Homo sapiens: one gene and its partners. The protein of the gene in region 4 purifies or fractionates together with the protein of the main gene of each other region. This does not show direct contact. Each region holds a gene or a part of one and is shown on either strand. Other genes may lie near its edges.

The links. Proteins that work in one complex are often made in the same cells at the same time.
Region 1: the proteins of POLA1 (region 4) and CHM purify together in Homo sapiens (co-immunoprecipitation; one large-scale study listed by IntAct). This does not show direct contact.
Region 2: the proteins of POLA1 (region 4) and POLE4 fractionate together in Homo sapiens (co-fractionation; one large-scale study listed by BioGRID). This does not show direct contact.
Region 3: the proteins of POLA1 (region 4) and PPP2R1B purify together in Homo sapiens (affinity purification with western blotting, with the first as the bait; one study listed by BioGRID). This does not show direct contact.

What each region holds. Positions count from the first base shown.
Region 1 is NC_000023.11:86,041,049-86,044,779, reverse strand, and holds part of CHM (rab proteins geranylgeranyltransferase component A 1), read left to right. Parts: intron 1-3,731. UniProt on the Homo sapiens protein: Substrate-binding subunit of the Rab geranylgeranyltransferase (GGTase) complex.
Region 2 is NC_000002.12:74,964,922-74,968,652, forward strand, and holds part of POLE4 (DNA polymerase epsilon subunit 4), read left to right. Parts: intron 1-3,731. UniProt on the Homo sapiens protein: Accessory component of the DNA polymerase epsilon complex. Participates in DNA repair and in chromosomal DNA replication.
Region 3 is NC_000011.10:111,752,880-111,756,610, reverse strand, and holds part of PPP2R1B (serine/threonine-protein phosphatase 2A 65 kDa regulatory subunit A beta isoform), read left to right. Parts: intron 1-1,160; coding exon 1,161-1,316; intron 1,317-1,516; coding exon 1,517-1,631; intron 1,632-2,041; coding exon 2,042-2,112; intron 2,113-3,033; coding exon 3,034-3,168; intron 3,169-3,731. UniProt on the Homo sapiens protein: The PR65 subunit of protein phosphatase 2A serves as a scaffolding molecule to coordinate the assembly of the catalytic subunit and a variable regulatory B subunit.
Region 4 is NC_000023.11:24,714,309-24,718,039, forward strand, and holds part of POLA1 (DNA polymerase alpha catalytic subunit), read left to right. Parts: intron 1-245; coding exon 246-361; intron 362-832; coding exon 833-895; intron 896-2,053; coding exon 2,054-2,146; intron 2,147-2,575; coding exon 2,576-2,663; intron 2,664-2,981; coding exon 2,982-3,183; intron 3,184-3,271; coding exon 3,272-3,450; intron 3,451-3,731. UniProt on the Homo sapiens protein: Catalytic subunit of the DNA polymerase alpha complex (also known as the alpha DNA polymerase-primase complex) which plays an essential role in the initiation of DNA synthesis.

The DNA of each region.
Region 1 (3,731 bases), about 61 Mb from region 4:
GATAAAAATAGATATATGTGGTAAGGGTCTAGAAGGTGCTCTTCAGCTTGGGTACAGAATTGTCATTTTCAGGGTATTTTGCCATTTAAAAAGTCATTTAAATGACAGTTTTGTGGATTATAGACAAGTACCATTGGTTGAACGTTAAAAGTCGTCCCAGTAACATTACATCTCACTGGAGGTGACTTATCTGGAAGCCTGTGTAATCTGCAGCACAGCAGAGCCAAGAACTCAACAGAAGAGCAGTCAAGATGGAAGTTATAAGATCTATATGATAATATTGACATGCTTCATACATAGGGGAATCCCTGAGATCATCACTTAGAACATATTCATCCTCATTTTAAAAATAATTCTAGCAAGCTCAGCATATTAGAACCACCCCCTTAGAAGATACAAGGAATGTTATCAACTTCTGCAAAGACTATGTTTGGTGGGGTTGCTATTAGACATACAAATGACAGTTTGTATAGGAAAGGGAAGAGAAAAACACCTAAAATGCAAACTTACATCAAACATCACAAAGGCCTGATAACATTTAGTGTAGTGACAAATACTCATTTTTCAGGTCATTCAACCCACATTTACTGAGAACCTAGTCCCTTCCCTTGTGAAGTTTACTGTATTGCCTATTCTCAGGAACGTTCTGGCCTTCCTAACAGTCATATCCCCAAAGCTGTTCTTAAGACAATGTAGGCTTTTCATTGCATCCTTCTTTCTTTTTGAAGACCATGTAGACATTCAGCCTGCATTTTTTCTTTTTAAAAGCACACTGCTCACATCTTTTGGAGTTCTTCCCCTAAGATGGGCTGCAGAGTAGGTTAGCTTAATTTTTCTACTGCATAGGATAAACACATATATTCTTTTGATTTAAGAGTTTTATTGTTAGCCAAGCATGGTGGCACGGGCCTGTAATCCCCATTACTCTATAGGCTAAGGCACAGGCATCCCTTGATCCTGGAAGGCGGAGGTTGCAGTGAGCTTAGATGGCACCACTGCACTCTAGTCAGAGAAACAGAGTGAGACTGTCTCAAAAAAAAAAAAAAGTTTCATTGGCCAGGTGCAGTGGCTCAGGCCTGTAATCCCAGCACTTGGGGAAGCCGAGGCAGGTGGATTGCTTGAGCTCAGGAGTTTGAAACCTCAGCCTCCCAAGTAGCTGAAATGGGTGACACAGCAAAACTGTATTTCTACAAAAAAAATACAAAAATTAATTGGGTATGGTGACACGTGCCTGTAGTCCCAGCTACTTGGAAGGCTGAGGTGGGAGGATTGCCTGAAACTGGGAGTTTGAGGCTGCAGTGAGCTATAGTTGTGTCACTGCACTTCAGCCTGGGCAACAGAGCAAGACCCTATCTCAAAAAAAAAAAAAAGTTTTATTGCTAAAGATTATGGGGAAAGAGAAGGGATAGCAAAGATAAACATGGAAATTATAAGGAGTACTGCCCCTAAATCCTGATTATCTTGCTAGATAGTGTTTAGCACCATACAGTAGTAGATGTGGCAGCATGGTGTATGATAATCACATGACCATCCTATTGTGTGATTTTGGGAAAATTACAGAATTTCTTGTGACATCATTTAGTTCATCTGTAAAGTGAGAAATTTCAATAGATGATCTCCAAGGTAGGGATCTACCAGCCCTAAAATTACCATTGTATATATCTATTTATGACACCATGTCCTTGAGAAAAGGCTAAATTCTGTTCTGTGTAGTCTTTTTAAGAAGGAAAGTCAGTGTTTCATATACTTCAGAAATTTTCCTATAAAAATGGCTGATAGGGTTTAGATATTTGTCCTGCCCAAATCTCATGTTGAAATGTTATCCTCGTTGTCGGAGGTGGGGCCTGATGGGATGTGTTTGGGTCATGGGAGTGGATCCCTCATGGCTTGGTACTCTTCTTGTAATAGTGAATTCGTTCTTGCAGGATCTGGTGGTTTATTTTTTAATTTTTTTTTTGAGACAGGGTCTTGCTCTGTCACCCTAGTTGGAGTGCAGTGGCACAATCATGGCCCACTGCAGCCTTAACCTCCTGGGCCCAAGCAATCCTCCCACCTCAGACTCCTGAGTAGCTGAGATTACAGACATGCATCACCATGCCTGGCTAATTTTTTTTTTTTTATTTTTGTAGAGATGGGGTCTGCCTATGTTGCCCAGGCTGGTTTTGCACTTCTGAACTCAAGCAATCTACCTGCCTTGGTGGCCCAAATTGCTGGGATTACAGATGGGAGCCACTGTGCCTGGTCGACTGGTTGTTTAAAAGTGTGTGGCATCTCCCCACACTTGCTTGCCTTGCCTCTCACCAAGGGAGATGCCTGCTTCCCCTTTGCCTTCTGCTATGACTAAAAGCTCCCTCAGGCCTCCCTAGAAGCCGAGCAGATGCCTGTACCATGCTTGTACAGCCTGCAGAACCCTGAGCCAATTAAACCTCTTTTCTTTATAAATTACCCAGTTTCAGGCATTCCTTTATGGCAACACAGGAACAGCCTAATACAGTGACTGATTAGAAAAGGCATTTTCTTAAAAATGATAGGCTGCTTTTTTCAGAAAAGGTCACTTAAGTAGCCTTTCCTTGATGTTGGGATGTTCCAGTCCCATTCCTTGATGTTGGTGAATTTAAACATTAAGGTAGTTAACCTTGACTGGCAGCTCATTGACTTATGATGATGTTGGAATAGCATCACTTCTGTAAGCCTTGGGGGATAGTAATATTGCAGGAGGAGTTGTGAAAACTGATATTTACCAAATATCTGTTTGTGCCAGCCTTAACACAAGTGATTTCCTATATTTCTAACTTAATCTTCTCCCAGGATGCCTGAATGTGGTTCTCACATCACAGGATGTCCATAGTCCTCCCTGTGTACTTCCAAAATCTTCACATCTATTGTCTACAGTGGATTTTTAAAAATTGTAAGATGCCACCTATTAGTGGATCATGGAGTGAATTCCAGCATTATAAAAATGAGGTAGAATATATCAGAATGCATGTAGTAAGGATGAATGTTGTTTTTTATATATATATGTATATATATATATATATATATATATATATATACACACACACCATATATATAACATATATATATATATACATAAACACACATACACACATATGTTTTTGGGGAGGGCAGGTTCAAAAAATTTAAAGCATAGAGTATATTGATCAGCTGAATGACATAGTGAGTAGGAGTGAAATGGTATTTCAAAAGTCCTTTCTTTGTTGTCTTCTCTTTTGTTCACCAGCTTGCATTATTTATCATTTGTTTTCCTCATAGTTTTTGGAACAGATTTAGTATCGGTCTTATTTGAGGTATAGTATGAAACACTCCGTTGTCAGCGTAAGAGATGCTATAGGAGTGAAAGATAGCCTGCAGATTTTGCTGTTCTGAAAAATGCTTTGCACTTCTTCAGGCATTTATTGATGGAAAAGTATGTTTTTGTTTGCTTCCAATACCTAGAAAAGTAAAGAGTTATCTAACTCTGGAGAAGACTCTCTGGGAGATGCTTACCCTTCTCTGTAAATCATGAATTTGAGCCAATACCTCAGAGAGAGCCACATCTGTTGCCATAATTTCCTCTGCAGCATCATTTTCATCTCCCATGCCTCATGTCATTTTTCTCATTTTCTCCAGTGTTTTCATGATGTTTTGGATAACAGGCTACAGTAATTAAATTCAAATATGGCAGCCCACCATTACATTCTCATGTTTAACATAAAATCCCAATGCACAGA
Region 2 (3,731 bases), on a different chromosome or scaffold from region 4:
GGGAAAGCTTTCAGTATTTACCTAGTAATTATGCTTACTGTAGATTTTATGTAGATTTTTTAACAGATTATGAATGTTGCATCCCTGTTTATAAAAGAGATTAGTCTTTTTTTTTCATACTGTGTGTGAGCTTCATACAATTCATTGGCAATTATACACTTTTTATCTATTTTTTTTTTTTTTTTGGTGGGGGATGGAGTCTCACTCTGTTGCCCAGGGTGGAGTACAGTGGTACGATCTCAGCTCATTGCAACCTCTGCCTCCTGGGTTCAAGTGATTCTCCTGCCTCAGCCTCTCGAGTAGCTGGGATTACAGGCTCGCACCACCACACCCCAATAATTTTTGTATTTTAGTAGAGATGGGGTTTTGCCATGTTGGTCAGGCTGGTCTTGAACTCCTGACCTCAGGTGTTCAAGGTCCACCCGCCTCAGCCTCCCAAAGTGTTGGGATTACAGGCGTGAGCCACCGCGCCTGGCCCACTTTTTATCTTATCTATTCTCTGGAAAACTTATTGAAAGATTGGAATTATTTTGTTTTTGAATATTTGATGGAATTCAGTGATGCTGTTAGAGGGGTTGCAATGCCAAATTTGGTTATTGTATAATTTAGATTTTCTGTGTTCTTACTGAATTTCTTCTGTCTGCTTATTTTACCTGTTTCAAAGAGTTATGTGTTAAAACTCTACTGCTATGATTATGGACTATTTCTACTTATATTTCTGGGTCTATTCTTTCATTATATATTATGAAACCATGTGATTAGATATATACAAATTTAATGTTGTTATATATTGTTGGTGATTGAGCCTTTTATATTTGTAAATTGGCTATTGTTATTTCTAACTGCTTTGAGCCCTAAAGTCTATTTTGTTTAATATTATTAAAGCTTATCAGCTTTCTTTAGTTAGTATTTATTTGCACGGTACGGATTTTTGTAAATCTTTTAATTTTTATCTTTCCATATATTTGTGAACAGAATTTAACTGGATTATTTTCCTAAATTCAGACAGTCTGTGTCTATAACTGGAGCACGTCATTTATTTATGTTTAATGTAATTGGTCATATCTATGAGTTTGAATTCTATTGTCTTATTTTGTCCTGCTTTTTATTTGCTTGTTTTATGTTTTGTTTTTTTTTTCTCTCAATTTTTGGCCTTCTTTTGGATTATTATTTGATTTTTTTCCCTCTATCAGCTTGGAAGTTATATGCTCTATTTCTATTCTTTTAGTGATTATCAGTTACTATGTAAGTCCTTAATTTATCAAAGCCTATTTAGTACCTTTCCCCTCATTCTCAACAAATTGAGATCTCAGGATCCATTAACTCAATTTTCAAATTCCTCGTCTCCTAATTTATGTGCTGTTATTGTCATGTATTTTTGTTTTGTCTTTGTCAATCTACATAAGGCATTTTTATTCCTGAATTATGCAGTCAATGATATATGGATTTAGTCACATACTACCTTTGCTTTTCTTTCCTTTCTGGATTATTATTATTTTTGAGACAGTTTCATTTCGTCACCCAGGCTGGAGTGCAGTGGTGCGATCTCAGCTCACTGCAACCTCTGCCTCCTGGGTTCAAGTGATTCTCATGTCTCAGCCTCCCAAGTAGCTGGAATTACAGGCATGCACCACCAAGCCTGGCTAGTTTTTTTTGTATTTTTAGTAGAGATGGGGTTTCACCATGTTGACCAGGCTAGTCTCAAACTCCTGACCTCAAGTCATCTGCCTGCCTTGGCCTCCCAAGTGCTGGGATTACAGGCGTGAGCTGCTGTGCTTGGCCTCCTTTCTGTATTTCCGATCCTCCATTTGTGATCATTTTCTTCTTCCTGAAATAAATCATTTAGAACTTCATTTAGTATGGTCTGGTAACTGACTCTCTCATTTTTTTCTTATGAAAATGCCTTGAATTTCATTGTTGGAGGATAATTTGTTGAATATAAATTCTAGGTGGAAAATTATTTTCTTTTAGCACATTGAAGCTATCATTTTACTGCTTTTTTTTTTGGCTTCTATGTTTTCTATAGAGAAATTACCTGTTTGTAATTCTTTTGAAGCTAGTTTATCCTTTTTGTTTTTTGTCTGCTTTTAAGATTTTCACTTTGATTTTCTGTGGTTTCACTCTGATGTACAGAGGTGTGGATTTCTTTTTATGTAGTTTGTTTGAGCTTCTTGAATCTATAGATTAATGTCTTTCATCTGTCCTGGAAAATTCTCAGCGAGTGTCTCTTCAGCTATTGGCTCTGCCTTGTTCTTTCCTGTGTCTCTCTCTGGGATTCCCATTAAATATATGTAAAAACTCAATCATAATTTTGCCTCTCTAGTATGCATTCTGTGTAATTTTTTCTGATCTTCCAGTTTATTCTCTCCATTTGTCTCATTTCCTTTAAACTATTTTTTTTGTTTTTTTTTTTTAGTTTCAGTTTTTGTATTTTTCAGTACTGTGAGTTCTGTTTGGTTCCTTTCCAAATCTGTTGTCTTTTTTTTTAGCTTAATAAAGTATCAAGCAATTTTTGTGAGTACTTTTTGTTGTTCTTATTTTCTGCAGGTATTTTGAAGTTTGTCTTTTAGTTCTGTAAACATAGTAAACACAGTTGTTTTATAGTGAATGTTCCATCCAATATATGACCTAATATTCAAAGCCTTTTGAGTTTTTTGTTTGCTAGTCTGTGCCGAATCTAACATCCATAGTCTCTTGAGACTGTCTTTTTGTCTGTTGTTTCTTTTGGTACTGTCACATGGCCTTTTATCCCCCTATATGCCTATCTTTGGATAATGGTTATTTTCTTTAAAAAGTATTTGTTAGATAAGTTGAGGCCATATGGTGATACTTTCTCCAAAGAAAATTTCCATTTGCTCCTGAAGCCACCTACAGCCATTATCAGTGCAGGACTTCTGAATCCAGATCTAAGACTTGAAGGTTTCTGGACTATCATACTGATATGAACTCAGGCTGCAGGCCTGTGAAGGGGCACTGATTAAATTCCAGTTCGTCCTTACTCTGAGGGGGCAGCCTTTTGGGCTCTAGCTTAAGAAAGATGGGTGTCAGACTTCCTTACTTGGGTAGACTCAGGGATTTGACTCTTGGTTCCTTCAGCCTACACAAATAACCGCCCAGTTTCTCAGCTTTTTCAGATTGGCAGATGTCATGAGAGCAGAAGTAACATTAGAGGCTGGGTTTGTTTTGTGTTCTTACTGTCTCTAGATTTCACATTTGCTTTTTCTTGATGTCTCTTCAATTCCTGAAGATTTCCTTTTCTTATATATTTTATTTAGCTTTCTCAGTTGATCTCAACAGGAACTTGCCATTATGAAAAGCACCTCTATTTTTTTTTAAATTAGAAGTGTTTTTGCTTTATTTTTCTTATGTTTTTATTTTCCCTATATTATCTAGGTCATTAAAAAAAGTTTTGGTATCCTTTCAACTGTGTAGCTTTCTTCAGATACCTGGTGATTTTCATTCTATTTAAGAATAAGGGAATAAGGCTGTTTGGTAACTGTGTGTGTGTGTATGGGATGAGGGGGTGGTTGTTGCCTGGCAGCTTTGCTTTAGGGTGAACAGGGGTGGGACCAGATGTTGTCCTGGGTGACCCCGAGGGTATGAATGCAGAATGCTTTGCTGTGGGAAGCTGGCAGTTTTAGAGGCTGTTCTAGTTTTCTCCATATAGTTCATTTGGTTCTTTAGAAGAGAGCCCTGTGATCTTTGTTTTTTTTTTTTTTCCAAGTTAGGTT
Region 3 (3,731 bases), on a different chromosome or scaffold from region 4:
GTATTTCTTTCCAAGTCATTATCTTATGCTGCCTACACTCCTGTTACTGCGACCCTGATCTGAGTTTTTTGAAAACTAAGCTTTCTAAGTGATTTCCTTTACTCTTACTCTTACCTTTGTCCTAATCTGTTATAAATAACTTGTACAAATATTGTTTTCATTTTTATCCCTCAACTTTCTGTTATAGTAAGGCTTTGAAGGCATCATTAAAATGTTTTTTTTTTCTTTTTTACTTAATTTTAAAATTTTCATTTCCTTTATAGAAACTCTGCATTCTAGCCAAGGTAATTACTTTGCTGTTTACTCATAGTACAAAGTCATTTCTATCTTTATGACTTTGACATGCCATTCCAGGCAAAGGGAGCAGCTCTTTCTTTTTTTTTTTTTCCTTTTTGTTTTTTGAGACAGAGTGTCACTCTGTCGCCCAGACTGGAGTGCAGTGGTGCAGTCTCGGCTCACTGCAAGCTCCGCCTGCTGGGTTCACGCCATTCGCCTGCCTCAGCCTCCCGAGTAGCTGGGACTACAGGCACCCGCCACCACGCCTGGCTAATTTTTTTTGTATTTTTAGTAGAGATGGGGTTTCACCGTGTTAGCTAGGATGGTTTCCCTCTCCTGACCTCGTGATCCGCCTGCCTCAGCCTCCCAGAGTGCTGGTATTACAGACGTGAGCCACTGGGCCCGGCCGGGAGCAGCTCTTTCAAGATATAAATACACGGCCAGGCGCAGTGGCTCGCGCTTGTAATCCCAGCACCCAGCACTTTGGGAGGCCGAGGCAGGTGGATCATTTGAGGTCAGGAGTTTGAAACCAGGCTGGCCAACGTGGTGAAACTCTGTCTCTACTAAAAATACAAAAATTAGCTGGGCGTGGTGGCTCCTGCCTGTAATCCCAGCTACTCGGGAGGCTGAGGCAGGAGAATCACTTGAGCCTGGGAGGCGGATGTTGGAATGAGCGGAGATTGTGCCACTGCACTCCAATCTGGGTGACAGAGTGAGACCCTGCCTCAAAAAAAAAAAAAAAAAGAAAAAGATGTCAAGACGTGAAACTATATAAGGTGTGGCAGTCTTGGTGGTGTTAATTTTTTTAAACACCTGCACCACCCCACAGCAGTTCCCCATGGGTCTCAGTAAATGTCTGAATTACAGAAATTTTGTTCCTTTAGGATTCAGTGCGCCTCCTTGCTGTGGAAGCTTGTGTCAGTATTGCCCAGTTATTGTCTCAGGATGACCTTGAGACTTTGGTGATGCCTACACTTCGACAAGCAGCAGAAGATAAATCTTGGCGCGTTCGCTATATGGTGGCTGACAGATTTTCAGAGGTAAAGTGATCATTTTTAAGTACTAAGGAAATAAACCTGAAAACACATAGATTTGCTGTTGTACCCAAAGTTTCTGAATTAATTCTTTTCAATGGGAAGTGCTGTGGCAAAAATATGTATTTACAGATTGCACAATTTTGTTTTGTTCTTGTTAATTCTTTTGTTAGTATACATTAAAACCCGTTCAAATTCTTTTATAGCTCCAGAAAGCCATGGGTCCTAAAATCACCCTAAATGACCTCATCCCCGCCTTTCAGAACCTACTTAAAGACTGTGAAGCTGAAGTCCGGGCAGCTGCTGCCCACAAAGTAAAAGGTTAAGGAGTTCAATTTATGTTGGAACATGTGTCATTCATTTTGGTGCATTTTTTTGTTAGTCAATTTTGCATGTTTTTTGTTCTAGAATATGTTTTTAAAATACATAGGGATGTTTTTAGTGTGTGGAAATGTTACATTGTCACTTAAAGATAGTCTCTTTATATTTAAAACCAAGAAATCATTTTGTCTTGTTTTTGTAAAAAAAAAAATGCCTTTCAGGTTGGATTGGTGTGATATGCAATGGCATAGAGAGTTCACGAAAAAGTTTATTTAGAACAAGAGCTGTTTTCCTTATTTGCTTAAACATATAATTTAATTGAAATTATTGATAAACCTGGTTAAATGTCCTCATTTGGCTCTTTGTAAATGGCCCTGTGAAAGCATTCTTTTTTTCTATTTATCTTTTAGAACTTGGTGAGAACTTGCCCATTGAAGATAGAGAGACCATAATTATGAATCAAATTCTGCCTTATATAAAGGTAAACCTGACTTTATTTTGTTTCACTCTCTTTTATATGAAGGTAAACCTTAATCTCATTATTTTTGTTTGTTTGTTTACCTTAAAGCTCTTTGAGTTTAAAGGTTGACAGGGAATGAATGGGGAAGATGTGTTAATGTGCAACATTGTTATTCATCACTTATTAGCCCATTGTAATTGTAAACTGCTCTTTGGTGCATAGGTTTATGTTACCTAACAAGTAGTCTGAGGAAACATTATCAACTAATCAGTATTGAAATAGTGCTGTCTTTAAATTCCTTGGGGTCAGGCATGGTGGTACATGCCTGTAATCCAAGCACTTTGGGACGCTGAGGTGGGAGGATTTCTTGAGCCCAGGAGTTTGAGACCAGCCTGGGCAACATAGTGAGACCCCATTGCTACAAAAAATACAAAAATTAGTTGAGCCTGGTGGCATGCACCTGTAGTACCAGCTACTTGGGAGTCTGAGGTGGGAGGATTGCTTGAGCCCAGGAGGTTGAGATGGCAGTGAGCTATGATCATGCCACTGTACTCCAGCCTAGGTGACAGGGTGAGACACTGTCTCAAAAAAAAAAAAATTAGGCCAGGCGTGGTGGCTCACACCTGTAATCCCAGCGCTTTGAGAGGCCAAGGTAAGAGGATTGCATGAACCCAGGAGTTCAAGACCAGCCCTGGCAATGTAGTAAGAACCTGTCTCTGCAAAAAATGAAAAAAATTAGCCAGGCCTGGTGGTGCATGTCTGTAGACCCAGCTACTCTGGAGGCTGAAGTGCTTGAGCCTGGGAGGGTGAGGCTGCAGTGAGCCAAGGTCATGCCACTGCACTCCAGCCTGGGCAACAGAGCAAGACTCTGTTTCCCAGAATAATGGTATGGAAGTTTCTGTTGTCTTGTAATAAAGGCTTTTAATTTCGATTTTATTTTAGGAATTAGTATCCGATACCAATCAACATGTCAAATCGGCTCTAGCTTCTGTAATTATGGGATTGTCTACTATTTTGGGCAAAGAAAATACCATTGAACATCTTCTACCTCTTTTCTTAGCTCAGTTAAAGGATGAGGTGGGTCTTGCTTTATGTTCTGTTGCCTTTGATAGTAATTTGATTTTATTTGATTTTGGTTTAGGGTTTCATTAAAATAGAACCCCCAAAAAGAAAATGGATAAAAAAATCATAACTTATTTTAAACCAATGACACCTGTGATTTTGGGTATGGGGTTATAGGTTCCTCAGAAAGTGGGCAAAAGTACCCATTAGAGTAAACCTAGAAATATCTGTTTATCATCTTTACCTGATTTTTGCTTTATACTCCCTGGTTTCTTTAAAGCTAATGTGTCTTTGTTTAAAAAGTTTCATTTATTTAAGTTTAAATATAGTATCAAAAATTATAATGATACCTAATATTTACTGAGTAATTACTACATGGCAAGCATGAGCCTTAGTGCTTTGCATGTATTTTTACATGCAATTCTCACAACAATCCTGTGAGGTAGGTCTTATTATTATCCCTTTTTGTTTGTTTGTTTGTTTGTTTTGTTTTTTGAGACGGAGTCTTGCTCTGTCGCCCAGGCTGGAGTGCAGTGGCGCAATCTCTGCTCACTGCAAGCTCCGCCTCCTGAGTTGAT
Region 4 (3,731 bases):
CACCATGCCCGGCTAATTTTTTGTATTTTAGTAGGGACAGGGTTTCACTGTGTTAGCCAGGATGGTCTCGATCTCCTGATCTCGTGATCCTCCCGCCTTGGCCTCCCAAAGTGCTGGGAATACAGGCATGATGTATTTTTAATTCTTAACATTTTTCTTCCCAATAGAGATCAAGTGACTAGGCTTTTAGTTTTCCATTTTGATTTTTGCTGATGCATGTTTCTAAATAATTCATATTCCAATAGGAAAAGATGGTAAAGCACGCAATAAAGACAAGAGGAATGTAAAGAAGCTCGCAGTGACAAAACCGAACAACATTAAGTCAATGTTCATTGCTTGTGCTGGAAAGAAAACTGCAGATGTGAGTTTCATGGTTTCCTTATTTTTTGTATTTTCCTTTGTGAGGTGAATTTAATATTTGATTATACAGATAACAGGTGCTCTGTATATATTTGAGTAACATTTTTCCAATTTCACTCACTAAGTTGGATGTAGATTTCTAAGTGAATTAAGGCACCTCAGTGGTTGGAACTTGCGAAATGGAAAAGAGAATTGAACAGAAAAGCTGAATTGAGAGTGTGTTTAATTTTAGTGAGTAGCAGGAAGATCATGGATTAAGGGCGAAAGTAGAGGATGGGAGCTATAGATGTAGGAATGCTATATACACAGGTGGTTGTTAAAATCTGTGAATGTAGATGAGCACTCAGAGAGTGAGGAATGAAGAGGCAAGGACTAACTGGCTAGGTCCTTCCTTTCATATACATGTGTGTAGTTTTGGTGAGACATTTTAAGTGCAAGGCTTTCTCATGTTACCTTTCTTTATCATTTCCAGAAAGCTGTAGACTTGTCCAAGGATGGTCTGCTAGGTGACATTCTACAGGATCTTAACACTGAGGTAAATGAATCTCCAGGAGTTGTAAAATATGCAGAGGACATAGACTGAAGAAACACTCTAGTAATTATACAAAACAGACTATTGCCAGAATTTTTTCTTTTTTTTTGAAACAGTAGCTTGCACTGTTGCCCAGGCTGGTGTGCAGTGGTGCGATCTTGGCTCGTTGCAACCTCTGATTCCCAGGTTCCTCTTCCCTGATTCCTGCCTCAGCCTCCCGAGTAGCTAGGATTACAGGCACCTGCCACCACGCCCGGCTAATATTTTGTATTTTTACTAGAGACTAGGTTTCACTATGTTGGCCAGGCTGGTCTCGAACTCCTTACCTCGTGATCCGCCTGTCTTGGCCTCCCAAAGTGCTGGGATTACAGGCGTGAGCCACTGTGCCCGGCCTGTTGACAGAATTTTTTAAAATGTAAGAACGCCAACAAAAAACCCCCCACCAAAAAACAAAGAAACCCCCTTCAGATTGGTTTTATCCCACCATTTTAGGTGAGTATTTCCAGCTGTTAGAGCTGTGTGATTATGTAGATAGGGATGTGTGGGTGTGTGTTTGAAGTAGTAAGAATATACCCAGGAGTCAGTTCTGTGAGTGCTCACTGCTTGTGTTCAGTTGCTGTGGTGTATGTTCCCTAAATAGATTGAAGCCTGTCAATCTGCACAATCAGGTATAAGAGCCTTGTCTTGAATTCTGAGTGGGAATGAAGGAAGAGTGAGTGAACTATCCCTGATAGAACTCAAACAGGATTAGCTGCATTGTGAATTTGAGATTTGGCCATTTCCCATAAAGACTACGCTCTCATTTAGAAGTGTACTTCTTTTAAAGTGACCATTGATTAAAATGACTTAACAACAACACCATGTAGTTTTATCTTGACAATTTTTAAATGTAATATTCTCAAAGGGTCAGTGAAAGTATGTTAAATTTTAAGAAGAAAAAATTTGGGAGGGGGTAGATTTAATATCTATTTTAGTTTTCTTGTGATTTCTATAGTATTGTTGCTATAGTAACCACAGTACATGACATCGATGGGAGGGGGGAGGGGGAAAGGGAAAGAAAAGAAAGCTTTGCTTATTGGGCTTCAATGAGTGAAGAAGTATACTTTTTCTGTCTGTGGTAAACCAAGCATGGCAGTGAATATGTCTTACCTTTCCTTTTAGACACCTCAAATAACTCCACCACCTGTAATGATACTGAAGAAGAAAAGATCCATTGGAGCTTCACCGAATCCTTTCTCTGTGCACACCGCCACGGTAAAGTGTGTAGAGATACCTTCAATCTTGATTTATAGTATTGCTTTAAACTTATTTTGTTGCTTTTCTGTATGAGGGAAATACCTTTACATTTGTTTTTGATTTTTGTTTTAAATTAGGACTCCCATTCAATTTATAGTTTCATGTATTTCAAAAATAGCATGTGCCTGCCTTTTTCATAGTAAATTTGCAGTAACTAGTGTGTGTTTATTATAGGTATTACAACTGTGGTAAATGCAATAATTTTCCTCCCAGAAGCAAGTATTTTTTTGTAAACCTAGGTAACAGTAAAATAATTGAAGCTGTTACATTAATAATACATAAAATCTTTTTATAAAAGGGAACTGTCATTATCTTTGGTCAGGGTAGGACAGTTGCATATTTTTAGTATGTAGGTCTAACTGACTAAATATTTAAAAACGTTTACAGGCAGTTCCTTCAGGAAAAATTGCTTCCCCTGTCTCCAGAAAGGAGCCTCCATTAACTCCTGTTCCTCTTAAACGTGCTGAATTTGCTGGTAAGTGTGATGTCAGGCAGAATTGCAAGAGTGTTGAGTGGTTTCTGTCAAAAATGGAGGCCCTATGATGGAGGAGGTAGAGGAGATTTTGAAGGTGTTGTGATGGCAAGTTTAAATGTGAAGATTTGAATTCATAAAAATTTCAGTAAAAGTTAAAAACACCCAATTTGGAGATTAAAGAGAAATGCAAACATAGTATAGAAAAGGGACAGGCTGCTATTTTAGTGTTGGATAAGCCTTTGTGCGCCTTTGTGTGCCTTTGTGTGCCTTTGTGTCATCGCAATAACACATGACAAGAATGTGTGATGATGCCTACAGGCGATGATGTACAGGTCGAGAGTACAGAAGAAGAGCAGGAGTCAGGGGCAATGGAGTTTGAAGATGGTGACTTTGATGAGCCCATGGAAGTTGAAGAGGTGGACCTGGAGCCTATGGCTGCCAAGGCTTGGGACAAAGAGAGTGAGCCAGCAGAGGAAGTGAAACAAGAGGCGGATTCTGGGAAAGGGACCGTGTCCTACTTGTAAGAGCATTTTATGACTTTTCTGGCAAATAGGACCACAATTTTTCTGTTGGATTTTGAAAGGTTTTTGAAAATGTGATTTCTGCAGAGGAAGTTTTCTCCCGGATGTCTCTTGTTGGGACATTGATCAAGAAGGTGATAGCAGTTTCTCAGTGCAAGAAGTTCAAGTGGATTCCAGTCACCTCCCATTGGTAAAAGGGGCAGATGAGGAACAAGTATTCCACTTTTATTGGTTGGATGCTTATGAGGATCAGTACAACCAACCAGGTAATCATATATAAGGTAACTATATGCCTTTAACTCAGAGTAGGACTTTTCCCTTAAATATTTTATTTTTTGTTTCTTTTTGTGTGTTTTGTCTTTTTATTTAATCAGTTTATTTCTGTTTTTTTTTTCTTTATCCTTAAATACTTGAGTCACTGTAATTAGCTCAGGTCAGGCCCTGCCCTCACTTAACATGTATTGTAAGAGAGCGACACTCATTCATTGTAAAGTGAATGCGCCACCCTGATGGAGAAGAGCTATGGTGCGAATAATCCTTAAAGATG